Linked DNA regions of Homo sapiens. The protein of the gene in region 3 interacts with the protein of the main gene of each other region in a pairwise test. Each region holds a gene or a part of one and is shown on either strand. Other genes may lie near its edges. The genes, in order: PTPRJ, SLA2, MET and TNS3.

The links.
Region 1: the proteins of MET (region 3) and PTPRJ interact in binary tests that used the Homo sapiens proteins (3 or more experiments, as listed by UniProt).
Region 2: the proteins of MET (region 3) and SLA2 interact in binary tests that used the Homo sapiens proteins (3 or more experiments, as listed by UniProt).
Region 4: the proteins of MET (region 3) and TNS3 interact in binary tests that used the Homo sapiens proteins (3 or more experiments, as listed by UniProt).

Annotation. Positions count from the first base shown.
Region 1 is NC_000011.10:47,976,656-47,983,570, reverse strand, and holds the start of PTPRJ (receptor-type tyrosine-protein phosphatase eta isoform 1 precursor), read right to left. Parts: upstream 3,013-6,915; 5' UTR 3,001-3,012; coding exon of another isoform or gene 2,659-3,000; coding exon 2,563-2,658; intron 1-2,562. UniProt on the Homo sapiens protein: Tyrosine phosphatase which dephosphorylates or contributes to the dephosphorylation of CTNND1, FLT3, PDGFRB, MET, KDR, LYN, SRC, MAPK1, MAPK3, EGFR, TJP1, OCLN, PIK3R1 and PIK3R2. Plays a role in cell adhesion, migration, proliferation and differentiation.
Region 2 is NC_000020.11:36,615,185-36,622,207, reverse strand, and holds part of SLA2 (src-like-adapter 2), read left to right. Parts: intron 1-6,833; coding exon 6,834-6,983; intron 6,984-7,023. UniProt on the Homo sapiens protein: Adapter protein, which negatively regulates T-cell receptor (TCR) signaling. Inhibits T-cell antigen-receptor induced activation of nuclear factor of activated T-cells.
Region 3 is NC_000007.14:116,696,189-116,703,211, forward strand, and holds part of MET (hepatocyte growth factor receptor isoform b preproprotein), read left to right. Parts: intron 1-2,882; coding exon of another isoform or gene 2,883-2,896; coding exon 2,897-4,096; intron 4,097-7,023. UniProt on the Homo sapiens protein: Receptor tyrosine kinase that transduces signals from the extracellular matrix into the cytoplasm by binding to hepatocyte growth factor/HGF ligand. Regulates many physiological processes including proliferation, scattering, morphogenesis and survival.
Region 4 is NC_000007.14:47,579,095-47,586,776, reverse strand, and holds the start of TNS3 (tensin-3), read left to right. Parts: upstream 1-4,665; 5' UTR 4,666-4,726; exon of another isoform or gene 4,727-4,904; intron 4,905-5,078; exon of another isoform or gene 5,079-5,271; intron 5,272-6,881; exon of another isoform or gene 6,882-6,926; coding exon of another isoform or gene 6,927-6,938; intron 6,939-7,682. UniProt on the Homo sapiens protein: May act as a protein phosphatase and/or a lipid phosphatase. Involved in the dissociation of the integrin-tensin-actin complex. EGF activates TNS4 and down-regulates TNS3 which results in capping the tail of ITGB1.

The DNA.
Region 1 (6,915 bases), on a different chromosome or scaffold from region 3:
GAGATGCCAGTTCAAAAATTGCTTTTCCGGGCCTACTAAGCACTGAGCCTTCCGGCATCTCAGCTTTCCAGCTTCCACACCCGCCCTTATTAATGTCCAAACAGAGCTGTGTCTTTTCCATGACTTGTCCATTTGTTTAACCTGGTATAGTTGATTCCATTTTATAACACACACATAAGCACATACACACACAATCCAGGCCTCAAAAAACCAGTCAGCTCTTAGGAAGGTAGTCACATACTTGTTTCCTAAACAAACTTCAGAAATATCTCAAATTGATTCAACTTTGAAAAATTCCATTCACACCCACCATTTTGAGAAGACACAGTGATACGTCCCTATCATTAAAAGTAAGATCAAAGTGAAAACACGGGAAAAAAAAAAATAGCACTTTGAAAATATGAGGCCCAGGCCGGTGACCCAGGTTCCCATCTTGTCTTCTCTAATACCTTGCTGGGTGACCTCAGCCTGCTCCCTGTCTTCTCTGGACATCAATATCCTCATCTAAGAGCTCTGAGGGGTTTCAGCTGTCTTGAAAGTCTGGTCCAGCTCAAAAATGCACTGATTCCCTGAAATATCCATTATCAAAATGAACTGCTGAATGTGGATTTTGAAGATGCTTCTTCTGGGAGCCTTTTAGACTTCCTATTTCATAATGTGTCCAAAAAAAAAAGAAATAAGAGAGTCCTTTTGAGGTTCTACAGAACAAACCATAGAGGAAGGAAATATCTAAATACAGGACAAGTGTAGAGTGGCAATATGCTAATGAAATACAAGGAAGGATTGAGCAAGCAATAAATTTACCCAAGAAACTTTTTGCTGATTGAGAACACAGCTAGCAACCACTATGGCTGGAGCAAAAATAAATAAATTTTATATATATATAATTTAAAATTTTTTTGCTGAAGCAAAAAAAAAATTACATATATTATACATTTAAAAATAAATGAAGCTTTAAGTTTGGGGGTTTTCTGTTTTTTGTGGTTTTTGTTTTAGCATAAACTTTTGATACAAGAAATCTTCAAATACAAGGCTTTTTTAACTTCAGACACTGCTTCCCTGAATTTCCTTACATGGACAGGGAGAAGACAGCCCCCACAGGCACTGTACCTTAATAATGAGAATCCCATGTGGAAACCCTTAATATTTACAAAGTTCTTTTAGACATTGGCCAGTGGAAGCCCCTCAAACAATTCCATTGGGCAGAGGGTGCTATACTCATTCTACAGATGCGGTTAACTGAGGGTAGAGAAGCCTGAAGAGCAAGTCCAGCCCTGTGGCCCGGCCCTGGAGCCAGTCTCCTGACATCTACTCCCAGGTTCTCTGCAGGAGGTCACATTGCCTTCTGGCCCCCAGGAGAGCCTGTGCAGAACCTGCTGGGGAAACTGCGAGGAGAGACCCTTGGGTGCCGAGGGTCACGCAGCCCCCAGGCCCCAGCCCCCTTCTCCTACAGCCTGCTAGGCGGCATTGCTGCCCCAGGGTGATGCTTCTGCTCTCTCCTGTATTCGCGCTGGAGAAGTTTTCCCTGAAACCAGGTTCCATCCCCAGCCAATAACTCATTTCCTCAGAGATGGTGTCTGTATAAAACAAGCAAGATGGTCATTTGCAGAAACGCACAGCAAGGCAGCCCTAGACCGCTTCCCCTGCGGGTTCAAACCCCAACAGGCTCCAGAGGCTAAGAGGACGTGCCCGCTGGCTCAGCTCCCATGGCACGGGCTGGGTGCTCCGCTATTTCACTTCTCTCCCTCAGTTCCCCATCTGTGAAATGGGAATGCCCCTTCAGCTGCTCTGCCTCAGCCCCTATGGAAATGCCAGGAAGGGGAAAGGTCGGTCACCAAAACGCCAGGGACAGCATTATCTGAAAAGTGAAGCCAGAAAAGAGGGTGAGGGTGGGGTGGGGAGGGGGAGCCAGCGCCCACAAAGCACGAATTAAACACCCATGAAATCAAGCACGACGCCAAGAGGGCCGGCTGCCTTGAGAAAAGCCAGCGTGCGGCCACCTTTTCCCCGGCCTGGGAACTTTCCCCAGGAACAGGGCCCTCGGCCCGGAGTCCCGCGCCTCGCCCAGGGCCCCACTGCCCAGCGCCTGGCCCTGCCCTGTCGCCCCCGCCGCCCCTCGGGCCCCTGCAGGCCGGGTCGGAGGTCTGTCGGCAAAGGCTCAGCCAGGCCGCCCGGCTCTGCGTCCCCAGACCTCCGCAAACACGCCCCCTCCGGCCGCCTCCGGCTAGGAAGCCGGGCCCGTGCCCGCCAGATGTGCCCAGCGCCGGGAAGAGCCGGGCCAGGGACGGCCTGGAGCCCGCGCGGAGGCTTTCCCCGGGAGGCTCGGGCACCGCGGCACCCGGATCCCGCCTCTCTCCCCCGATCCTGGGCAGCCGGAAAAGGGATCGATCGCCGGCGTGCGAGGCCGGCCGGGGTCCCCGCAAGTCGCCTTCCGGGGATCCGGGGATCCGGACCCCCGCCCCCTTCCCCGGAACCCCCCGGGGGGGTACGCTCGGGCAGGTGCAGTCAATGCCAGTCCCGCCCCAGCCTCCTGCCCCCCGCCCGAGCCCACCCGGCGCTTACCTGGCCCAGGCGCAGCAGCAGCAGCAGCAGCGGCAGCGCCCAGCGCAGCCCGGGCGAGCGCGGAGGCAGCCGCGCCTCCCGCGCCGCCGGCTTCATGCCCCGCGCGCCCTGGAACGTGCCCCGGACGCGCGAATCGGGCCCCGCCGTGCGCCCGAGCCCGGGCACCGTCGTCGCCGCCTCCTGCCGTCTCCTTCGCCTCCTCCTCCGCCAGCCGGTCCGCCTCGTCCCCGCTCCGCCCGCCCCGGGCTTCCCCGGAGACATGGCAGCGGCGGCGGCGGCCGCGGCCACACGCCGGAGCCTAGCGCGGCTGCCGCGGGGGGGCCGCGTCCCTGAGCGCGCAGGGGCTTCGCGGGGCGGAGCGAGCGGCGCCCACCCCCAGCGCGCGGCTACCCGGTCCCGGCTCCCGCGGCTGCTCCCGCTGCCTCCTCCGCGCGTCATGCGGCTGGGGCTGCTGCAGGGAGCCGCGGCGAGCGCTCGGCCCCCTCCCTTCCCCTCCCCCTCTGAATATTCATCGCTTCCTCCCGCCCCGGCCGGCCCGGCGGCTGCGGAGCTCCGCAGCCCCTCGCCGCCGCCCGCCGCTGCCCCCGCCCCCTCCGAGCCGGCCGCGGATCCCCTCCCGCGGGCAGAGGAAGCGCTCCCGCCTCGCCCGCCCCTCCGCCCAGCCCTCCCACATTCCTGGGACTTGGAGCCCGGGACCAGGCTCCGTGGCTCTAGCGCCTCGAGCCGGCACCCCTCAGGACGGGCTCCCCAGCCTCACACCAGGTCCACGGCGCCGGGTTCGGGTGGGCAGAGGTTGACCGAGACCCCTACTGAGAGCGCAGCCAAGCCTGATTGTAGACAGCAACCCGGCGAAGGCGCGTTTGACCTGGCCCTGGGTGGGCTTGGGGGTGCGTGAACCCCGAAATTGTAGAAGGCACGCTGTACATTGTGTTCTGTCCCCCAGCCCCCGAGCGCCGGCCAGGGAGGCAGAGAGCCCAGTACAAGCCAGTCCAGGGATTAGAACCCCAGCTGTGGCATATGGTGGACGGGGCTCTGCTGGTAGTACCAGCCCTGTGAACTCTGGAGACGCATTTCTCCTCTCTGGCCGACCCCACCCACCCTCCTCTCCTCCCGTGTGAAATAAAGATCGTACTAGGACGTGTGGAGAGAGAGGTCCACTGCATTCGCGATTAAACGAGACAGTAGTTAGTAAAGTCCTAAACACCTAGCCTGACACATCGTGGGACTCCACATACATTAGCTCTTCTGGAAGCTTTCATCACGTTGTTAAAGAGGTCAATGAACTGACAGGAGTTAAAGATCACAGCAGATATTACTCCTGTGCCCATGCACAGAGGAAGACACTAGGATCAGGGAGGCTATGCCACTTGCCCAGGAGAAGCCGCAAGAGAAAGGGCCAAACCAGAGAGTGCTAAGGAGGAAGAGGTTAATTCCAACCAGGAGAGAGGTGACACCTGAGCTGGGCTTTGAAGGATGTGTTGAGTTTCACCAGGCCAGTAGAGGGGAGAAGTGTCTCAGGAGGTGGGGCCAACTTGGCAGAAACGAGGCAGCAGATGCTTCGAGCTTGGCCTTCGGAGAAACAGGAATGGGAGGCTGGGGGATTCATACTGGGGGAGACTTCAAAGGCCAGGATAATGAGTCTAGGCTGGATTCTGTGTGCAGCAAGATGCAGACCACGAGGTGTCCAACACTACCTCCAGACACCCGTTGGGCCTCAGGTTACCATCTACAAGATGGGAATACACATTCACTTACAGGGTCTAAGTGGTTCCCACCAGACAACACACCCAGACAAGCACTGAGGATAAAGAAACTTTGCCAGGCCGCACGATGGCTCACGCCTGTAATCCCAGCACTTCCGGAGGCCAAGGTGACTAGATCACTTAAGCTCAAGAGTTCGAAACCAGCCTGGGCAACGGGGTGAAACCCAGTTTCTACAAAAATTAGCCGGGTGTGGTGGCACACAGCTGTAGACTAAGCTACCTGGGAGGCCGATACAAGGATGGCTTGAACCTAGGCTGCAGTAAACCAAGATGGCAACACTGCACTCCAACCTGGGGAATAACGTGAAAACCTGTCTCAAAAAAAAAAAAAAAAAAAAGAAGAGGCTGGGCGTGGTGGCTCACACCACACCTGTAACCCCAGCACTTCAGGAGGCCGGGGCAGGCAGATCACTTGAGGTCAGGAGTGCGAGACCAGCTTGGCCAACATGGTGAAAACCCATCTCTACTAAAAATACAAAAGTTAGCTGGGCGTGATGGCGTGCCTGTAATCTCAGCTACTCCAGAGGCTGAGGGCAGGAGAATCGCTTGAACCCGGGAGACGGAGGTTGCAGTGAGCCAAGATTGCACCACTGCACTCCAGCCTGGGTGACAGAGTGAGACTCCATCTCAAAAAAAAGAAAAGAAAAAGAAAAAAGAAACCTTACCTATGGACTTACACACCTTGCCACCCTTCATTTAAACACTATGTAATTATCATAATTCACAAGGATTTTTGTTCCTCTGTGCCTCCTCCCCTCTTGAGGCAGAGACATAAAAGGTGTTCATGTCCATGATACCCAGAGGGAAGGAAAGCTTGATTTAAGATGCTACCAGGGGGCTGGGCACAGTGGCTCACGCCTATAATCCCAGCACTTTGGGAGGCTAAGGTGGGCGGATCACCTGAGGTCGGGAGTTCAAGACCACCTGACCAACATGGAAAAACCCTGTCTCTACTAAAAATACAAAATGAGCTGGGTGTAGTGGCGCATGCCTGTAATCCCAGCTACTCGGGAGGCTGAGGCAGGGGAATCGTTTGAACCCAGGAGGCAGAGGTTGCAGTGAGCAGAGATCGCGCCATGGCACTCCAGCCTGGGCAACAAGAGTGAAACTCTATCTCAAAAAAAAAAAAAAAAGATGCTACTGGGTAGCCAAGGATGATTGCCAATTATAAAAAAGAAAAAGAAGATGATAGTAGGTCTGCAGGCTGCCTCGGATCCTCACAGACCCTACAGACCCTACTAACCCTGAAGACCGACCCAGGTCTCCACAGATTCATGGCTTGGGTCAGCAAACAGCTCTGTGAACTCCTGCACGCCCTTCAGTTTTCTCCTGGGTAAAATGTATGCCCAGCTTAAGTATTGGTTGGAACTGGATTTCGCCACTGCACAGTGATGAAACAAAATAAACAGCCTTTTCAGGAAAGGGAGTGAAGACCTGAATAATAAACTACCTCTTCAGCCATAAACAGATCACACTGGATTAATGACCTCTGAGAGAAATGAAATTAATCCTGGGTAGGTGTTACATCAACTCCTTGAGGACAGGGGTTGGGACCTCCTCACCTTGGTAGCCCTGCAACGTCCCACTCAGTGTCTTGCCTGTAGCAGGGATTGAATATTCGTGCAGATGCATGGCCACAAAAATGTATCCAGGGGTAACATGATGTGAAAGTTTATTTTTCGGCTGGGCGCGGTGGCTCACGCCTGTAATCCCAGCACTTTGGGAGGCCGAGGTGGGCAGATCACAAGGTCAGGAGATGGAGACCATCCTAGCTAACACAGTGAAATCCCGTCTACTAAAAGTAGAAAAAATTAGCCAGGCGCAGTGGCAGGTACCTGCAGTCCCAGCTACTCGGGAGGCTGAGGCAGGAGAATGGCATGAACCTGGGAGGCGGAGGTTGCAGTAAGCCGAGATCGCACCACTGCACTCCAGCCTGGGCAACAGAGCAAGACTCCATCTCAATAAAAAAAAAAAAAAAAAAGAAAGAAAGAAAGTTTATTTTTCCACGAAGATAAGTTGGGGAAGGATCATTCCCTTTGCAATGGATTTGAGACTATATTCCAGTCTATAGGTTTCTCCATCACATGTCACTTCACCTAGAAATTCCAAGATGCCCCAACACTGAGTTGGGTGCACTTCCTCCTCCATCCACCATAGCTCCCTGTGCTTAACCTTATCTAACCACAATTTTGTAATTGCCTGTTTATTTGACCACCTTCCTCGCTGGACTCTAAGACCCTTGAAGATGGGGTCTGCATCTTGTTTATCATTGTATCCTCAGCAAATAACAGTCACTCAGATAATATTGATTTAAATTAAATAGCAAACTAAGGTATTCTGTATATGCCTGTTCTCTCACGCACAAAACAAATTCCATCTGCAAACAACTTTTCAGGAATAAATTCTACTATGCAAAGTTCAGGACACATTCGCCTTGAGAATATACAATATTTGACCTTCTAATCATGTCTCCTTCAAACAAACCTAAAGCTTTACTGAACAGAGGGCTAGATAAATAGAGGACCAAAAGGCTAATAAACCAAGAACCTGGAGTGGAGGGCTCCTGGATGCATTCCAAAACTTCCTCATA
Region 2 (7,023 bases), on a different chromosome or scaffold from region 3:
ATCAAGTCTTGCTCTGTCACCCAGGCTAGAGTGCAGTGGCATGATCTTGGCTCACTGCAACTTCCACCATGGGTTGGCCAGGCTGGTCTTGAACTCCTGGCCTCAGGTGATCCACCTGCCTCGGCTTCCCAAAGCGCTGGGATTACAGGTGTGAGCCACCGCACCCAGCCAATGTTCAGCTATTGATTGATTGAGACAGAGTCTTCCTCTGTTGGCTAGGCTGGAGTGTAGTGGCACAGTCATGGCTCACTGCAGCCTCAACGTCACAGGCTCAAACGATTCTCCTGCCTCAGCCTCTGGAGTAGCTGGGACCACAGGCATGTACCACCATGCCTGGTTAATTTTTAAATTTTTTGTAGAGAAAGACTCTCACCATGTTATCCAGGCTTGTCTCAAATTCCTGGCTGGGCTTAAGTGATTCTCCCACCTCCACCTCCCAAAGTTCTTGGATTACAGGCATTAGCCATTGTCCCTGGCCAATGTTTAGTTCTTATTTTTAAAATAAATTTTAATTTTACATTTATCCTCATTGTTAAGCAAGTGATGTTCAGTTTTTGTTTTTTGTTTTGTTTTGTTTTGTTTGAGATGGAGTCTTGCTCTGTCACCCAGGCTGGAGTGCAGTGGCGCGATCTCGGCTCACTGCAACCTCTGCCTCCCGGGTTCAAGCGATTCTCCTGCAGAGATCCTGCAGTGAGCCGAGATCGCGCCACTGCACTTCAGCCTGGTGACACAGCAAGACTCCGTCTCAAAAAAAAAACAACACTATAGCCTTTTTCTGCTGTTTTTAGAACCTTCTGCTACTATATCTACCACTTACACCACCACATCCATAAGCACCACCATAGGGACTGCCTGAGCTTCTTCCACCAAAACTGCCTCCTTTCATAGGTCCATAATTTGATTGCTGTTGTCCACTATAATTGCTAAAATCATTATAGTTCCCATCACCAGCATAGTTACCAGCGCCAAAATTTCCTCCTTCATTGTAACCATCATATCCTCCGCCACCGCCACCATATCCACCACCTTGGTTTTCATATCTTGCTCCACCACCACAGCAGCCCCGTCTACTGCTATAAGCAGGCTCACCATCATTGATGCCACCATCACCTCCTCCATAACTACCTCTGCTGCCACCATCTCCACCACCACAGTCTTCTCTTCCACCAAAGTTTCCACTGCAGCCAAAATTACCTCTACTACCTCCAAAGTTTCCTCTGTAACCTGTAAAATTGCCAGATCCACCTCCACGACTACTTACCATCCAGCAGGCTACCTCTGTTATTTAGTAAGGGCCTTTTTCACTTCACCATTATGCCCATTAACAGTGTGGTATTTCTGGCTGGGCGTGGTGGCTCGCACCTGTAATCCCAGCACTTTGGGAGGCCTAGGCGGGTGGATCACGAGGTCAGGAGTTCGAGACCAGCCTGACCAACAAGGTGAAACCCTGTCTCTACTAAAAATGCAAAAATTAGCCAGGCTTGGTGGTGCACACCTGTAATCCCAGCTACTCAGGAGGCTGAGGCAGGAGAATCCCTTGAACCTGGGAAGCGGAGGGTGTAGTAAACCTAGATTTCACCACTGTACTCCAGCCTGGGCAACAGACGGAGACTCTGTCTCAAAAAAAAAAAAAAAAAAAAAAGCCAGTGTGGTATTTCTGAACAATTTTAAAAACTATATCTTGATCATCAAGTTACAAAAGCAAATCCTTTTTTCGACTCTGCTTGTCTTCCATAACTTCTATGGTTTTAATCTTGCCATACTTTTCAGAGGTCTCTCAAATTATATTCTTCTGTATCTTCTTTATTTTATTTATTTTATTTTTTTGAGACAGAGTCAAGCTCTGTTGCCCAGGCTGGAGTACAGTGGCGCAATCTCGGCTCACTGCAACCTCTGCCTCCTCGGTTCAAGTGATTCTTAGCTCCCTGAGTAGCTGGATTACAGGCGCCCACCACCACGCTCAGCTAATTTTTGTATTTTTAGTAGAGATGGGGTTTCACCATGTTAGCCAGGCTGGTCTTGAACTCCTGACCTCGTGATCTGCCCGCCTCGGCCTCCCAAAGTGCTGGGATTACAGGTGTGAGCCATCGCGCCCAGCATTGTTTTTATTTTTTCTTGAGGTGGAATCTCGCTCTGTCGCCCAGGCTGGAGTGCAGTGGCATAATAATTGCCTCTGCCTCCTGGGTTCATGTGATTCTCCTGCCTCAGCCTCCTGAGTAGCTGTGACTATCGGCTCACACCACCACACCTGGTTAATTAAAAAAAAATTTTTTTTTGGCCAGGCACGGTGGCTCACACCTGTAATCCCAGCACTTTGGGAGGCCGAGACAGGTGGATCACAAGGTCAGGAGATCGAGACCATCCTGGCTAACATGGTGAAACCCCGTTTCTACTAAAAATACAAAAAAAAATAGCCACGTGTGGTGACAGGCACCTGTAGTCCCAGCTATTTGGGAGGCTGAGACAGGAGAATGGCGTGAACCCAGGAGGCAGAGCTTGCAGTGAGCCGAGATGGCGCCACTGCACTCCAGCCTGGGTGAGAGAGCGAGACTCTGTCTCAAAAAAAAAAAAAAGAAAAAAATTTGTACAGACATGGGAAGGGGGTCTCTATGTTGACCAGGCTGGTCTTTAATTCTTAGCCTCAAGTGACCCTCCCACTTCAGTCTCTCCAATTTTTTTTTTGACACAGAGTCTTGCTATATTGCCCAGGCTGGAGTGCAGTGGCGTGATCTTGGCTCACTGCAACCTCCTGCTCCCAGGTTCAAGCAATCCTCCTGCCTCAGTCTCCCAAGTAGCTGGGATTACAGGCGTGTGCCACCATGCCTGGCTAATTTTTGTATTTTTAGTAGAGATGGGGTTTCACCATGTTGGCCAGGCTGGTCTTGAACTCCTTACCTCAGGTGATCCACCCACCTTAGCCTCCCAAAGTGCTAGGATTACAGGTGTGAGCCACCGCACCCAGCCTTTTTTTTTTTTTTTTTTTTTTTCCCCCAGAGTCTCACTCCATTGCCCAAGCTGGAGTGCAGTGGCGTGATCTCAGCTTACTGCAACCTCCACCTCACAGGTTCAAGCAATTCTCTTGCTTCAGCCTCCCAAGTAGCTGGAATTACTGGCACCAAGCCTGGCTAATTTTTTTGTATTTTTTGTAGAGATGGAGTTTCACCATGTTAGTCAGACGCATCTCAATCTCTCGACCTCAAATGATCTGCCCACCTCAACCTCCCAAAGTGTTGGGATTACAGGCGTGAGCCACCAAACCTGGCTTCTAGATACTTTTTTTTTTTTTTTTTTTTTTTTTTTTGAGATGGAGTTCACTCTTGTTCCCTAGGCTGTAGTGAAATGGTACAATCTCGGCTCACTGCAATCTCCGCTGCCTGGGTTCAAGCAATTCTCCTGCCTCAGCCTCTCAAGTAGCTGGGATTTATAGGCATGTGCCACCATACCTAGCTAATTTTATATTTTTAGTACAGATGGTCAGGCTGCCTTGTTGGTCAGGCTGGTCTTGAACTCCTGACCTCAGGTGATCCAACAGCCTCTGCCTCCCAAAGTGCTGGGATTACAGGCTTGAGCCACTGCGCCCAGCCTAGATACCTTTTCCTTATTAATTTCTAATTTAATTCCATTGTGGCCAGACAACATATTTTTAATGATTTCAATCCTTTTAAATTTGTTGGCCGGGCACAGTGGCTCACAGCTGTAAACCCAGCACTTTGAGAGGCCAAGGTGGGCAGATCACAAGGTCAGGAGTTCAAGACCAACCTGGCCAACATAGTGAAACCCCATCTCTACTAAAAAAACAAAAAAATAGCCGGGCATGGTGGCACGTGCCTGTAGTCCCAGCTACTTGGGAAGCTGAGGCAGGAGAATCACCTGAACCTGAAAGGCGGAGGTTGTGGTGAGTCAAGATCATGCCACTGCACTCCAGTCTTTTGAATTCTATTGTCTGATATTAATATCCCACTAACATTCTCCCATTAATAAGCCATTCTAGCTTACTTATGGTTGTCTGCATGATATATCTTTTTTCCATCTTTTTACTTTTAGCCTTTTTTTTTTTTTTTGAGACGGAGTCTCGCTCTGTCACCCAGGCTGGAGTGCAGTGGCACGATCTCGCCTCACTGCAACCTCTGCCTCCTGGGTTCACGCCATTCTCCTGCCTCAGCCTCCCGAGTAGCTGGGACTACAGGCGCCCGCCACCACGCCCGGCTAATTTTTTATATTTTTAGTAGAGCCAGGGTTTCACCGTGTTAGCCAGGATGATCTTGATCTCCTGACCTCGTGATCTGCCTGCCTCAGCCTCTCAAAGTGCTGGGATTACAGGCTTGAGCCACTGCGCCTGGACTAATTTTTTTGAGACGGAGTCTCACTCTGTCGCCCGGGCTGTAGTGCAGTGGCTGATCTCGGCTCACTGCAACCTCTGCCTCCTGGGTTCAAGCGAGTCTCCTGCCTCAGCCTCCTGAGTAGCTGGGATTACAGGCGCACGCCACCACGCCTGGCTAATTTTTTGTATTTTCAGTAGAGATGGGGTTTCACTGTGTTAGCCAGGCTGGTCTTGATCTCCTGACCTTGTGATCCGCCTGCCTTGGCCTCCCAAAGTGCTGGGATTATAGGCGTGAGCCACCGCGCCCGGCCCATTAACTTTTGTTTTAATTTTTTTTTTTTTTTTTTTTTTTTGAGACAGGGTCTCACTCTGTCATCCAGACTGGAGTGCAGTGGCACAATCTTGGCTCACCGCAACCTTCACCTCCCGGGCTCAAGCAATCCCCCTGCCTCAGCCTTCAGAGTAGCTGGGACTACAGGCATGAGCCACTCTGCCCAGCCTTGTTTATTTATTTTTTTAATTGAGATGGAGTCTCGCTCTGTTGCCCAGGCTGTAGTGCAGTGGTGTGATCTCGGCTCACTGCAACCTGTCTCCTGCGTTCAAGCAATTCTCCTGCCTCAACCTCCCAAGTAGCTGGGACTACAGGCGCACACCACCACACCTGGCTAATTTTTTTTTTTTTTGTATTTTTAGTAGAGGCAGGGTTTCGCCACATTGGTCAGGCTGTTCTTGAGCTCCTGACCTCAGGTGATCCGCCCACCTCGGCCTCCCAAAGTGCCGGGATTACAGGCGTGAGCCACTGCACCCGTCCCCGGCCTTGGGTTTTTTATTTATTTATTTATAGAGTCTTGCTCTGTTGCCAAGGCTGGACTGCAGTGGCACAATCTCGGCTCACTGCAACCTCTGCCTCCTGGGTTCAAGTGATTCTCCTGCCTTAGCCTTCCAAGTAGCTCGGACTACAGGTGTGCACCACCACACCCAGCTAACTTTGGTATTTTTAGTAGAGATGGGGTTTCACCACGTTGGCCAGGGTGGTCTCGAACTGGGATTACAGGCGTGAGCCACTGCCCCTAGCCTGTTTTAATATTTTAAATGTGCTTATATGGCCAGGCACGGGGTGGTTCACGCCTATAATTCCAAGTACTCAGGAGGCTGAGGCAAGAGGACTGTTTGAGCCCAGGAGCTGTGATCATGCCACTGCACGCCATCTGGGCAACAGAGCGAGAGCATGGCTCTAAAAATAAATTAAAATCTGGCTGGGCGCGGTGGCTCATGCCTGTAATCCCAGCACTTTGGGAGGCTGAGGCAGGCGGATCACGAGGTCAAGAGTTCGAGACCAGCCTGGCAAATATGGTGAAACCCTGTCTCTACCAAAAATACAAAAAATTAGCCGGGCGTGGTGGTGGCAGGCGCCTGTAGTCCCAGCTACTCGGGAGGCTGAGGCGGGGGAATCACTTCAACCCAGGAGGCGGAGGTTGCAGTGAGCCGAGATTGCACCACTGCACTCCAGCCTGGGCAACAGAGGGAGACTCTGTCTCCAAAAAAAAAAAAAAAGAAAATTAAAATAAAAAAAAAAAATGAAAAAATGAAACATGCAAAGCTGGTGAAACTGTCATTCATCAGTGTATGTAATGTATACATGTAGGTTGAGCAGCACTAATAAAACTGACATCCACGCGCCCACTTGCCAGCTGAAATTACCTAACAAGCCCTTTGTAGCCCCCTCTCATGCTTCACTGTGTTAATCATTCAGTTGCTTTTCTTCAGAGCTTTGCCGTGTGTGCCTGTGCAACATATAATGTCATGTTGGCTATCTTTGAACTTTAAATAGAATCAGGCTGAATGTATGCTCTGTAATGTTTTTCTGCTTAATTTCCAAGATTTCCTTATGCTTATATGTAGCAGTTATTAATTTTTACTGCTGTATAGCACTACACTCTATAATCCACAATTTATTCTACTCTTGAGCACAAACGGGCTGTTTGCCGTTTTTGACTTTTACAAACAATGCCGCTGTGCATATTGCTTGTGTGCTTCTGAGGTATTGTGCCTGGGAAGAACTGCTGGGTTGTAAGGTACGTGCATGTTCAGCTCATCTAGTTAATGCCAAACTGTTTCCAAGGTGGCTCGTACTAATTTCTCTTCCACCAGCAGGGTGGGAGGTCCTACTTCTCCACTTCCTTGCCAGCATCTTCTTGACAGTGTTTTTGCATCCTAACATATCTGCCACCTGAGTCTTTGTAAGAACAGCCAACGCTGAATGTTCACTCACACAGTGCCAGACCCTGTACTGAGGGCTCTGTGTGTGATTTGATTTCACCCTCACAAGACCCCCATCTATTATGAACATATTATTGATGACCAAGAGAGCAAGTCTTTGTCCTGCTTCTGCCCCAGACACTTCCCTTCTGCCGGGGCCCCATGGTCACGTTGCCTATCTTCGTTTCCCAGCCTAGGTGGGGCCGAGTCCCAGCAGGGCCTCAGTGCCACCCCTGGACCCCTTTCTCCTCAGGCTCTTACTCTCTGTCAGTCCGCCTCAGCCGCCCTGCATCCTGGGACCGGATCAGACACTACAGGATCCACTGCCTTGACAATGGCTGGCTGTACATCTCACCGCGCCTCACCTTCCCCTCACTCCAGGCCCTGGTGGACCATTACTCTGGTATGGCCTTTCCCTGCCTCCAGGACTAGGCTGGGATAGT
Region 3 (7,023 bases):
CTCCTTTGAGACTCGGCTCTAGCATCATTTCCAGTCGAGTTGGTCTCCCTTCCTCTGCATTCTGATAACTGTTAACCATCAAGTGACTTGAGCTTCCCAGGGAAGGGCATCATGTCTTTGTAGACATCCAATAAATGTTAGTAGAAGAAAGGGGGGTCCTGCCAATAATCATATGTCTTTCCCACAATTTAAACTCCTTTTCACCCTGTTACTACTTTTTGCTTGTCTTCCCTTTGATAAACATTCTACTTCTTCATCACCCATTCCCTCAATTTAACATCTGATACTACTATAGAAACTACTGCCTTGAAGATCAACAAACGGGTTCCATGTGGACCAACGTCCTCCTTGAGACCCTCACTTGGCTTTTGTGACACAGTGCAATATTTGCTCTCTTGATGCCTCACTGACCTTAACCTTCCTTGACTCCTGCATAGATTTCTCAACTGTGGGTATCCCCTAAGATTTAGGCCATTTGCCTTCTCTTCTTTCATCTAGTCCATTCATGAACACACCCATTCCTGGTTTTAACCATCACCTCTGTGCAGATAATGTGCAAAGTTTATTTCTAGTCGGAGTGGAGTCTCTGTTACTCTGCCAATCAAGTTCTAAATTTTTATTCCTTCTAGTGCAGCAGTGGCAAATACCTGACACTCATGTGTCTCACTCAAGACAGATACTGTTTCACCCAAGACTGATCATGCCGCTTTCCCAGTCAAGGCAGGCTTCTCAGAATCCTTCTCATTTCCGCCTCTGTTCTTTGGCACTAATGCTCTGTCTGCCCAGAGTTTTCATTCTTCACTTGTTCCAGGCACCTGCTTCCTGGTGAATAATGTAAAACCTGCTAGTCATCCTTATAGGAGAATATGCACTCATTTCCCAGCAGCACACCCGACTCAACGTGGTTAAAACCAATCTACCATTCCCATATATTCAGCCTAACTTCCCAGTGCAGTCTACCCTAGTTTTATAACTTGTTCTACTTTTTCCAGATAACTGCTAATCATCTTTGTTTGTCTTTGCTTTCTTTTTTGCACTGTGTTTGATATATTAGGGTATCAAATCCTACTTATTCAAATATGTCCCTTATTCATTCCTTCTATCCTTGGTGCTACCATATTTGTTCTGGCTCTTGTTACCTCATTATGGGATATAAAAATAGCCTGTCAACTGGTCTTTCCATTGCCAGGATCTCTCTGTTCTAAGCCACCCTGCCTCCAGATCAATCTTCCTAGAGTAAAACCTTCATTGTATGACGGTCTAGCTCAAAATTCCTTAATGATTATTAATCACCTCTTAAAGTCCCCAATTCTTAGACTATTAGTAGGGTAAAATTATTTTTGATTTGGAGTCAAAAAATTTTGGACGCAAATTTTGGCTACTACACTTAACCATTATGTAACTTCGAATTTCGGCTTAATTTTTATTCATCATTTATTCAGTATCTATTTGTTTAACACCTTCTGCATCTCAGGCTCTGTACTAGGTACTTGGGATACAATGATGAGCCAAGCAGACCTTGTCCTTGCTCTCCTGGACCTCACAACATGGTGAACTTGTCTCTATTGCTCATGATCATAATAATCCTAAGTACAGGCTGTGCTTTTTTCCCTTGATACTTGTAGCTTTTGGTTTGTGCTATGCAGGGTATTGTAATACCATTTGCAGTGCCACAATAATCAGCATATATGTGTTATCACTCAGCCACATTGCAGCTTCACTGAAGGGCAGGGGCTATGTCCCATTTCTCATAGCGCAAGCACAGTGCCCTGCACATACCAGCTGCTCAGTGATTTCTGATGTGGTTTTTGTAGATCCAGGGTTAGTCTTTGGCAGTCATGATGCCTAGTATGTTTTTAGAGGCTCCCTTTGTCCTATCAGAATTATGCTATTTAAAAAAAAGTCATACCTATTTAGTTTATATTCATTCTAAGGCCTCTCCTTTCCAACCTACTACCCTGCCTATAACTATTATAAGGAGAACTCACAATGTTTATAACTTGTGCACCTTAAGTTTTAAATACTGAATAACAGGCCCATTCATGTTTCCTCATAGAAATACTGTCTATATGCATACAATGAAATGTTAAAATAATGTTCTTTTTACTAAATAGCTTTTTGACTTGGTAATGAACAATATGTTGTTTTTCCCTGAGAAGTAGTTCTAGGACTTTAGTTCTGAAGATTATGTTGTATTTTATACATTTTCAGCCTCCTGTTTTTCAGTTCCCAGTGATCTTACATTAAACATTTGTCTGTCTAAAACAATAGGTTAACTATAGCCAAATTATAACCATACCATTCCTCTCCACACAAAATCCTATAAACAGCATGTGATCATATTGCTTCTAGAATTTATGATTGTTTTCTTCCAAAAGGAAGCTAAATTTAGCCTAGTAATTCTACATGCGCTCAAGAAAACAATGCCTGCTGTGATTTCTAGAATAAATGAATGTGAACCACAGTTCCTTTACTTGACTAACAGAGAAAGTTTAAATATCAACCTAGTCATTAACCACAGTTATTAAACCACGTTAAACAACCAGCAAGGGGTTAAGAAAGAAAGTTGCTATGTTTTTTCTTTCATTGCTGAATGAGTCTAACTTAGTTACTGTATCAACCTTAATACAGAACATTGTTTGCATCTCAATGGTTCTCTAAAATTATTCGTTCATGGCTTGAGTTCTAAAATTAAACTATGTGGAGTCATGTCCAACCGCACAATGCATCTTTATGTGAAACTTGCTAGAGTTTTTGTTTTCCTTCTATGTAAAAGTCCAGTTGGGAAGCTTTATTTCTGATAGATTAAATGGTATAGGTCTTTCAGTTTTCTCTTCATTTCTGACAACTGAACTGCTCTCGCCTTGAACCTGTTTTGGCAGATAAACCTCTCATAATGAAGGCCCCCGCTGTGCTTGCACCTGGCATCCTCGTGCTCCTGTTTACCTTGGTGCAGAGGAGCAATGGGGAGTGTAAAGAGGCACTAGCAAAGTCCGAGATGAATGTGAATATGAAGTATCAGCTTCCCAACTTCACCGCGGAAACACCCATCCAGAATGTCATTCTACATGAGCATCACATTTTCCTTGGTGCCACTAACTACATTTATGTTTTAAATGAGGAAGACCTTCAGAAGGTTGCTGAGTACAAGACTGGGCCTGTGCTGGAACACCCAGATTGTTTCCCATGTCAGGACTGCAGCAGCAAAGCCAATTTATCAGGAGGTGTTTGGAAAGATAACATCAACATGGCTCTAGTTGTCGACACCTACTATGATGATCAACTCATTAGCTGTGGCAGCGTCAACAGAGGGACCTGCCAGCGACATGTCTTTCCCCACAATCATACTGCTGACATACAGTCGGAGGTTCACTGCATATTCTCCCCACAGATAGAAGAGCCCAGCCAGTGTCCTGACTGTGTGGTGAGCGCCCTGGGAGCCAAAGTCCTTTCATCTGTAAAGGACCGGTTCATCAACTTCTTTGTAGGCAATACCATAAATTCTTCTTATTTCCCAGATCATCCATTGCATTCGATATCAGTGAGAAGGCTAAAGGAAACGAAAGATGGTTTTATGTTTTTGACGGACCAGTCCTACATTGATGTTTTACCTGAGTTCAGAGATTCTTACCCCATTAAGTATGTCCATGCCTTTGAAAGCAACAATTTTATTTACTTCTTGACGGTCCAAAGGGAAACTCTAGATGCTCAGACTTTTCACACAAGAATAATCAGGTTCTGTTCCATAAACTCTGGATTGCATTCCTACATGGAAATGCCTCTGGAGTGTATTCTCACAGAAAAGAGAAAAAAGAGATCCACAAAGAAGGAAGTGTTTAATATACTTCAGGCTGCGTATGTCAGCAAGCCTGGGGCCCAGCTTGCTAGACAAATAGGAGCCAGCCTGAATGATGACATTCTTTTCGGGGTGTTCGCACAAAGCAAGCCAGATTCTGCCGAACCAATGGATCGATCTGCCATGTGTGCATTCCCTATCAAATATGTCAACGACTTCTTCAACAAGATCGTCAACAAAAACAATGTGAGATGTCTCCAGCATTTTTACGGACCCAATCATGAGCACTGCTTTAATAGGGTAAGTCACATCAGTTCCCCACTTATAAACTGTGAGGTATAAATTAGAAATAAGTATCAGTCTCAAAAAGAATATCCAGGGCTTCTTTTGTGCTTTGTAAATGGTGTTTATCCAAAATAGTTGCAGATTTTTTCCAAGAAAATTGAGGAATTGAATCTTCATTTACACCTAAAATTATATCTTTAAAATGTAAATGGTAACTAAAAGAAAAATGTTTTTACAATTCAGATTTGCATGTTCGTGACATTTCAGATTATATTAAAGTTATTTCCCATATAAGCTTTTTTATATTTACACAGATTTTATCAGATTTACACAGATTTTATCAGATTTACACAGATTTTTATCACAGCAGCAATTCCCATAAAACATAATTATTGACATTTCTATATAATCTCTGCAACATTTACAAGATGTTCAAGCTAATTTGTATGCCTTAAAGAATTGTTCCTTATGAGATTATATTCTCTCACTGATACACAACTGATTAATCTATATTCTTGACATTACTTAAAGGAACTTAACTTTAAAAAACCTCTTCTGAAATGCTGGTAAATAAAACATTTTTAAATGAGCTCGTATACTTCTCTAAATAACCTGTAAGAGTAGAGAGGAAATGTTTGTTCCCAAGTCCTTCCTTTAGAGCTTGACTTTAATCATGGACTTCCTTCTGGAAAAGACTTGTGTCTACCAAGTTCTAGCTTGGCACTTTACCTGGTTGGTATTTGTTATTTATAAGCATAAATATTTTGGTTGATGATTATTTATACTTATATGAAATGGTATTTTCTTAGGAGCTGTTAGAGATATTCTTGGTGCTGTGATTTAAATATAGTAACAGCTACCAGCTATACCTGGAGATTTATCCTGCTAGTCAGTTGATCACCTGGTCTGAGTGTTTATTGTGGCTTTGAGTTTCTTGATCTGGGCCAGATTTGGAATACGGACCTGACTATGACCATCATTGAATGAACAAATAGTATAGCTTTTCTAAAGACAGTTTGACTTTGGCATGGTATGTTTCACTTACTTTAACAGGTTTCAATCTAAGATATAAAGGTTATAATTGCAATCAGGTAGAACATTAAACATGTCCTCAGTAGCATAAAGTATATAATTTGCTGAGGGGTAAAGGCATATGAATTCAGAGACATTTGGTTGACTTTTGCTGAAATGTCTGGGACACTTCTCTAGATGGAAACTATAGTTAACTTTTTATGATGCTAGGAAAATACTTCCAAGAAAGTCAGTTCATCTTTTGGTGAACTAAAAACAAAACTTCCTTCCTCTCTCTTCCAAAGTCTATGAATATACATAACATAAATGCACATACATTCCAACTAAGACTTATTTCCCCCTACATACATTTAATATATGTTGCAAAGAAGCAATAGAATTCCTTATGAAGCTCCCCCTTTTCTTTACTAGAAACTACAAAAGAATGAAAGGAAACAAAATGATTTTCAGAAACCTGGGATTAGGAAATAAAAATATAATATTAATAGCATTACAGAGAAGATATTTTTCTGCATCCAGTAAGTTGATTCTGAGACACAAGTTTTAAAAGAGTCTATTAGGAATTCCTCCAGGGCTCCTAGAGCACATGGATTTGCTATTTAAATCTTTCTTTGTTAAAAATTAAAAAGAAGGGTAGGGCAAGAAAAAAATTAAAAAGAGAATTCATAAAGGTATATTGATATCTCATTTTTTAAATTTTGTACATTTCAATCCTTAGATGTAAAAATACTTATCAATTCTAGAAATTCTCAAAACACATCTGAATTTTATCCTACCCTTTTGACTTTTTTAGTGTTCCAAGGGAGACAAACAGACAGGATTAGCCAATGAAATTCAGGTCAGTTTTATCGCCCAGGAAAAATTCCCAAAATGCACTAGCCACACCTGAAACCATTATCACTCCCATCACAAAAATTCTTGCGGGAAACAAGATGGAACTTGCCAACATAGTCTTCTTACAAAGGAAGCCAACTTTTACACTGGCCAAATTCCATAGACAAATACCTTCAAACCTCCTCTATTTATTTGCCTGTTTATCTTCTCTGGTTACAAAGATCAAAATTCTTCTGAGACTGAGACTACACATATTCTCTCTCTCCATATACCCCATCCAGACCTCAGATTGTTCCAATAATGAGCATATAATCATTTCCTAGCTTAATGCCAAAATGAAGGCACCTAGAGCCATTCATCACACACAAAAAAAACAAAATGATTACAAGATCAAAGCTGTTTAGCAGGACTCTCAAGCAATAAGATGACTCCATTTTGTCTTGGCAGATTTACTTGGCCAGAAATCAAGTGACCCTTTTAATAATTTCTTGGAACTGAGTTTTTACTTTGGCATCAAGTTTGGTGAAAAGACACACATATTGTAGTTTTGTTATTAACATCTCTAATACATTTATAAAGGGACTCTTGTGGACAAGGTTAAGAAAGCTGAGCTGCAGCAGTAACTTTCTACTTATGCTTCTGCCCAGTCCTCAGTGTTGACACATTGCTGAAAGAGGGATTTCCTGGCACTCCAAGAGCTCTCCACCATGTGCAAAAAGTGTTTCTATCACAAGATCAGATAATGGGAGTGCCAGGGACGGGCCTTTTACATTTTAGGGGTCCAGCAGGTGTACCAGGCCTGACTTGCTTGTTTAGGATCACATATTTTGTTGCTTTTCCCAGTCTCACATTTCATGAAATATGTCTATGCAAACTCTTCACATGCATCTTCTCATATTGATGACATCACAAAAGCCCTCTTTTGAGTCATTTGATAATTCCCAGTACTCGTCATCTTCACCCATAAGCTATTTGTGCTTCAGAACTCTTTGTCTCCACATATGATGCTGTTTCTGGAAACTTATCCCAAGCCACAAATGCCCACTTATAGAATACCAGTGTTGTTGACTATGTCA
Region 4 (7,682 bases), about 69 Mb from region 3:
AAGCAGAGGGCCATGGGGCTGGCACAGGGCACGAAGTCCCTGTAGGTATGTTAAGAAGAAGAGCATGGGCCGGGCGCGGTGGCTCATGCCTGTAATCCCAGCACTTTGGGAGGCCGAGGTGGGCAGATCACCTAAAGTTGGGAATTCAAGACCAGTCTGACCAACATGGAGAAACCCCGTCTCTACTGAAAATACAAAAATTAGCCGGGCGTGGTGGCACATGCCTGTAATCCTAGCTACTCAGGAGGATGAGGCAGGAGAATTGCTTGAACCTGGGAGGCGGAGATTGTGGTGAGCCAAGATTGCGCCATTGCACTCCAGCCTGGGCAACAAGAGCAAAACTCTGTCTACAAAAAAAAAAAAAGAAGAAGAAGAAGAAGAAGAAGAAGAAAAAGAAACTGAATCTGCATCCATGCAGTGGGCATCCACAAAGTGGGCTCCCAGGGTCCATGTTTGTAGAAGTTGGTGTGCAGGTGCAGTTTTTGGAAACAAGGTGCTGTATTAGGGTTCTCCAGAGAAACAGATCCAATAGGGCATATGCAGATCTATAGAAGAAATTTAATTAATTAATTAATTCATTTATTTTTGAGACAGAGTCTCACTCTGTCGCCCAGGCTGGAGTGCAGTGGCGCATTCTCGGCTCACTGCAAGCTCCACCTCCCGGGTTCACGCCATTCTCTTGCCTCAGCCTCCCGAGTAGCTGGGACTACAGGCTCCTGCCACCACGCCTGGCTAATTTTTTTTTTGTTTTGTATTTTTTAGTAGAGACAGGGTTTTACCGTGTTAGCCAGGATGGTCTCGATCTCCTGACCTCGTGATCTGCCCGCCTCGGCCTCCCAAATTGCTGGGATTACAGGCGTGAGCCACTGCACCTGGCCTAGAAGAAATTTATTATAGGAATTGGCTCACACAATTATGGCTCACACAACTATGTCTGCAAACTGAAGACCCAGGAAAGTTGGTGGTGTAATTGCCAGTCTGAGTCCAAAGGCCTGAAAACCAGGAGCACTGATATTTGAGGGCAAGAGAAAATGAATGTTCCAGCTCAAGAAGGAAGAGGAAGAACTCACCCTTTTTCTGCCTTTTTGTTCTACTTGGGCCCTTGAAGGACTGGATGGTGCCCACCCACACTGGTGAGGATGGATTTGCTTTACTCAGTCTACCCATTCAAACGCTAAGCTCTTCCAGAAACACGCTACCCACACACCCAGAAATCACATTTTACCAGCTATCTGGGCAACCCTTAGCCCAATCAAGTTGACATCTGACATGAGCCATCACAAACACCAAGGTTATGTAAATTCCGAAAAGGTTCTGAGACACGGAAAAGCTCAGGTGCCTCTAGCCAGGCCTGGCAACTGTAAAGCCCACTTTGTTGAGCTGTAGGTGAGGATTCGTGTGTTTGGGAAGAGAAAAAGGAAGAGAGGAAAGGGCCAGGTGTTCTAGTAAGAGTCTCAAGGGACTTAGTATCTTTTTTTTTTTTTTTTTGAGACAGAGTCTTGCTCTGTCACCCAGACTGCAGTGCAGTGGTGCGATCTCAGCTCACTGCAACCTCCGCCTCCTGGGTTCAAGCGATTCTCCTGTCTCAGCCTCCTGAGTAGCTGAAACTACAGGTGCGTGCCACCACTCCCAGCTAATTTTTGTATTTTTAGTAGAGACGGGGTTTCACCATATTGGCCAGGATGGTCTCGATCTCTTGACCTTGTGATCTGCCCTCCTCGGCCTCCCAAAGTGCTGGGATTATAGGTGTGAGCCACTGCGCCCGGCCGAGACTCAGTATCTTAAGGCAAAACACAGGCATTTGCTCATGTTCCAACTCCACAGTTCTCTGAATGCGCTGTAGAGCTTTGTAACTCCATCCTGTGTAATGTTTCCTGCTGTCTCTTTCAGTTGGTCTTTGGGAAATATTTTCAGTGACAGAAAGTAAGAAATAAGGAAAAATATCCAAGTCCTTGCTCATATACCTCCCTTGATCTAGGGATACAAATTCAGATTTTTGCGGTGGCAAAGACAATCTTCATTGCAATGACAAGCTTCCAACACATCTTCTAAAACTCCTACAGGGGAGGAGCAAGAATGAGTCTGCAAAGAAGGGCTCAGGGAGGAAGGAGATTGGCGGGAGTTTCTTGCCCAGACTCCCCTGCCCTCTGCTTGGCATACTAGGAGGGAGAGGCCACTCTTGGCATATTGCTGCTTTTTTTTTTTTTCAGCTAAATGTTGGAGACTTTTGTTTTCAAAGTTGAGTTTTTTTTGGATGGCTAAGGATGGAAAAAATGCACATTCCCTTTTTCAGATACTGGTTCATGCCCTGTTTTTGTTTAATTTCTTGGAAACTTGAAGTTGCAGCCTGCGAAGTGGGGAGGCCCTGGGCTGGGGAAGCGAAGCTCTGGAAGGGGCCCAGGTCCCGATTGGGGATCCAGAGAGGCTTCCCTTCATGTGCCTCTAGACGAGGTGTGGGGAACCCGGGGAACAGCCATCCCAGCCAACACAGAGTGCGTGGGGATACTGGAGCCCGGTTTTTCTTCTCCTTTCTTGGGACACTGCCAGGGAATATAACCACAGACACTGCACGAATGAGCACCCAAGTCACAGTTTTTCTAGAAACAAAGGTGTGGTTGGGGCATCCCATTCCATTGCTACCCCAACAAGGGCAGTGTGGCCGGTGGGGCCATCTGGCTTGGGTGTGGGTAGCAGTTTGGAGAGATTTTAGAAGAGGCTCCCTGACAAAGGGTCAGAGAACCCCAGCACTGCACTGAGTTTTCCTGACTGTGAGCTCTCAGACAAACAACAGTGTCACCTCCTGTAAATGGGTGCCCTAACACTGCAAGAAGCTCAAATTCATGTTGTCATTCAGCCAACATGGTTTTTGGCATTATGATGGTTTCTGTGATGCACAGAATAGCACGTAATTGGCTCTGGGTGTGAAGATCACCACGGTCTTAATGGAAGAGAGGGTTGAGCAAAGTGATGATTTAGTCCAATTGCACAGAGTGGATGGTGTGGGCAGGCAGCTGGGAAGAAGTTAAGAGTAGCCTCAAGGCCAGATAGTCCTGATCCCTCCCACTTTCTTCGCCTGACCAGGTGGGTGACCTTGAACAAGTTGCCTAGAATGTCAGATCCTGTTTCCTTATCAGGACAAAGGAGATCGTAACAGTACCAGCCTCACCCCCATTCCTAACCCAGCTGGCTGTGACCTCCTCCCCACCTTCCCCTATGGCATCTTCCCTGGCACCCCTTGACTCATCTCATTGACTCTTGACCTGGTGTCTCCTAGAGTGTAGGAAAAATGCCTGCCTCATCTCTAGGGGCTGGGGCATGGTGCTCATGAAGCCTTTGCCTGGGAATAAATACCCAGATCAGTCTGGGGATGAGAAATGACACTACCTTCCAGAGCACAGCAGGGGTTGTTCAAGTCTTCCAGAAAAGCAGCTCTTGTTTCTCCTCATGTGGTGGGAGTGGAGTCAGAGCGTGGCTCAGGCCCCACATTCTCAGCTGTTTGGATCTGGGGACTCGAAGTTTCTGGTGGTTACTTCTGAAAGTCTTTTCCAGGATAATTATTCTTGCTCGGTTTCTCTGCCATCTCTGACAGGCTGTTTTCCCTGCTTCCCCCGCTGCCCTGAAGGGGCCAGAGGAACAGGGCAGGACCCCAGGGCTGCGGATGGGTTAGGCAGCTCTGTTCCCGAATCCAAAGCAGTTCTTGGTGACTGTCCTCCAAGACTTGCCCTGGACCCTGCTCCGGGTGGGATTCTGAGACCGCCTGCTCCACGTGGCAGATGAAATCTAGGTCTCTTCTGTGAGAGGCTGGCGGGGAGGATGTTTTCCTGGAAAGGACCACAGGACAAACCGCTGATGAAATTTCTCTTGTGACCTCCCTGGAGGAAGAGCACTTCTGATTTCTGCAAACTTTTTCCATTCCCCCGATCTCACAAATGGGGAAACTGAGGCTAAGCGACTGAGTTCAGGGCCATCTGAATCTCAGGGATGGACAGTCAGGATGGACAACCTATAGGCCTTTCCTCCTCTGAGAATCTCTCTGCTCGGGATCGTTTTTCTGGTTTCCCCTGGCTTGCCTAAATTCTGCTCATTTGTCCCGGCGCATTTTAAGAAGTCATGTGACTTCTAAAGACTTCCCTGACCTCCTCCCTTCATTAGCTGGGTATTTCAGGGGCTTCTACGGCACCCTAGGCTTTCCGGAGCGGCTGTGCTCCTTTATGTATGCGCGACTCCCACTAGGCTATGAGCTACAGGAGGGAGGGTAGGTCTTGCTCCCGGAGAGCACCTTAATCACAGGCGCTGAATGAAAGAATGAACTGGTTGTGCAGGAACCAGGATCCGAACCCGCCTCCCCAGGTACTCTAACACCGGCCCGGCGGAACCTGCAAGCCTCCAGACCACTTGGAGCCTGGGCTGCTCAATGGGTCTGATAATTCCAGGTCCTCTCTGCGGCCAGCGAAGGGAGGTCCCAGGGCGCACCTCGGCAGGGCGGGGGACCCCGGTGAAGGGCGCCTGGAGGCGCGCTGCATTGTTAGGGTGATGAGGCCAGGTGACCCGCCAGGCTCGGGGCGCGGGCGCGGGGGCCGGCCGTGGCGATTGCCCGCGCCGCCTCGAGGGGGCCCTGCCGCGGGCGCCGGCAGCCAGCCAGGAGGACGGGCCCGCCCGCGCGCTACTCGGAGCCCAGCCTCGTTGCGGCCATCGCCCTGCCGGACCGCGCCTCAGGCTCCCCCAGGTACTGGGGCCGGGGAAGGAGGAAACGCGGCCACGCGCCGCGGTCCTCTTTGTTTCGGGCCCGGCGCGGGCTTTCGCGCTCCGGGCGCAGGAACGAGGCTTGGGGAGCACAGAGATCTGGAGCTGGGGCGCGGGGACTGAGTTCGGGGAGCGCGGAGACAGAGTTCGGGGAGCGCGGGGTACGGGAGCTCAGGGCGCGGGGATGGGGTCACGGGAGAACCCAGGTTAGGGAGCGCGGGGACCCGGTTGGGGGCGCACGGGCAAGGGGTTTGGTGCGCGCGGGTACGGGGTTTGCGGCGCGTGGGGGGCGGGGGCTCGGCAGGAGTCCCAGGACAGGGGCTGGGGCGCGGGCCAGCTTCGCCGGAGTCCGGGGACGGGGGCGCTGACTGGCTGGGTTTGGGGACTGGCTGGGGCGCAGGACCACTCGAGTGGGACCCGTGGCGCCCGGGCGCCCTGGACTGAGGGCAGAGACCGGAGCAGCTATGTCGCAGTCGCTGTCGGGACCGAGCGGACTTTGCTCCCTAGGACTCCGTCTCGAGACTCCAGGTGGAGAGCGCAGCTAGGGGCTTCAATGGGCAGGCTCAAGACCCTTCTCCTACTTTTTCTAGGCAAGCTCTCCAGTGCGTCTCTTTCCCTTTCCCTTTGGTGGGTGGGAGGCAGGGGGTCTTTACGCGCTTCCTTTTTTTCCCTGAAGGACGGGACCTCGGGGTGGGGGGATATTCTGGGGTGGGGGGTGCTGTCCCAGGCTGGGGGCCAGCTGTGTGGCATGTGCCTCCTGGCACGCGGGAGCTGTCGCTGACAAGCAGGAGGAGGGAGGGTCCCGGACGGCCCAGGGGTCTCTGTGTCGGTGCTGTGCAGCGGCCTGACATGTGAGTCCCGGGTCCTTTGCTTGGAGTGATTTGAGTGTCTGTGGCGGGAAGAGATTCAGGCGTTCCTCAGGCATTCTCCAGACAGTGTCAGCAGATGACCCGAACTCCAGCGTGGTTGAAAAACTCAAAGCGCCATCAGGGTGTGGGGCCAGCAGAGAGCACTACTGAGGGTGGTCACAACCCCCTGGGAAGCCCCCAGGCTTCCTTGGGGCGCATTCACACACTTTGATCTTCCGGGTTGGCTTTCCCCCCATTTTTTTCACTATTTGAATGCATGATCATGGAGGACTCTGAAAATATACTGAAAAGTATGAATGCAGAACTCATTGTATTAATATTGCATGGCCCTTCTGAACTAACCAACCCTTTGACATTTTAGATTTTCTTGAGGCTTTGGTCTGTGCATATTAATTTTTTAAATTGCTTTCATGCTTTCCCTTTTGAATGAGGTTTACTTGTTCTGGTGATTCTGGTTCTTCTCTCTTTGGGGCCTGTGAGGTTATATTTGCAAATCAATCAACAAGTATTAAGAAAGGCTTTTCTGTGCTGAGGCCTTGAGGGCCAGGGAGGGGGTGGGGAGTCGCTGCAGCTGGAGGGTGGAGGGGCAAGGCCATTACACAGAGATGGAGGTGCACTGGGTCCTGGTGGGGGTGTGGTAGCACAGGGGGTGGGGGGTGTGTACACAGGGAATTGACAGGAGGAACTGGCAGCAAGCCCGACTCCTGACCTTAGGAATAGTAATGGTGACCCCGAAGACAAAGTAACAGGCATACCGATTGAGTGTTTGCCTGTGCTAAATGCTTTGCATGCATTCATTTCATTTCACCCAAATTACATTCCTTGGAGGGAGTTGGGATTATGATTACCCCATTTTACAGACGAGTAAACTGAGGCAAAGGAAGGCTAAGTAACTTGGCCGAGATGAAATGAAACATGGTGGTAGTGCAGCCTGGGATTCTGGGACAGGACTCTAGGGTCCCAGACCCCTGTTCCTGGCTGCTGCTGCGCGTCTGTCGACTGAATTCTAATGCATGTCCAGACAGCGATTCCTCAGCTGAGGCTGCCATAGCTATCAGCAGCTCAGCTGAATTATGTCTTTAAAAAACTACCAAGATAGAAAAACTAGTAGCCCCAGGGCACTACTTATTCCTGAATGCAAATTGATTTTTTTTTTTTTAACAAAGTGTCTCTTTGGCACCTAATGTTTTGAAAGTGAGCTGTTTGCAAATGTGACTCTGGAAATAAAGGGCAGGAGAGGGGGTGTCAAAGTATGCTCTTCCACTGCAGGAGGTGTTGCTGAAGGGGATAGCAGAGACCTGAGGAGGAGGCAGTATGGCAAGAACAGTGAGTGGAAGGGCTGACCTACCATTTGGCAGTCGCAGCTTATATCTGCTTAGGACTCTACACAAGGACCCATTTTACAGATGAGTAAAATACCAAGTAAATTCTTAAAGTCTGGGAACAGTTAGGGATCTGAATGAGCCCAGTTCTCTGACTCTATGTGCCCCATTCCTTTCTTAAGATCAGCCTGTTGTAAACCACCCCTGTTCAGGGGAAGCCTCTTGTTCCCTCCCTGTGTCCCTGTGTATGAACTTGAGAGGGGGAGGAACTTTCCACCTTCCTGAGGGCAGAAAGCATTGTTTAGATCCCTGCCACTTACTAGGAAGCCAGAGACATTTGCTGAGTGCCTCAGCAGCACGCTTAGAATTGAGGCTTCGAGGCTTCCTCACAGCGGCCCCCATAGATTTCCCAGGGAGGGGCCTCCTGTCTTGCGGGTTGATCTGGTGGGTTTGCCCCATGCAGCAGGAGCTATCATGGGAAGGGTGGGTCTGGGCGTCTGAAGCTCTCCAGGAGGTCAGCTGACCCTGGGACCCCGGGTCCTTCCTGTAGGACCCCAGAAATCACTGGGGAATCAGCTAACCCCTGCAAGCTGTGCCTGGAATGACCTAGAGCCAGTCCTGTCTACCTAGAATCCTCTGCTGCTATCCTTGTTGATCTAGAATGAGGGATGCTGGTTAGTTGGTTAATTAAGTAGGTGGTTGATTAACTTAGTTACTCTCTTCCTCACAGCAAGAGTATTAAAAACCA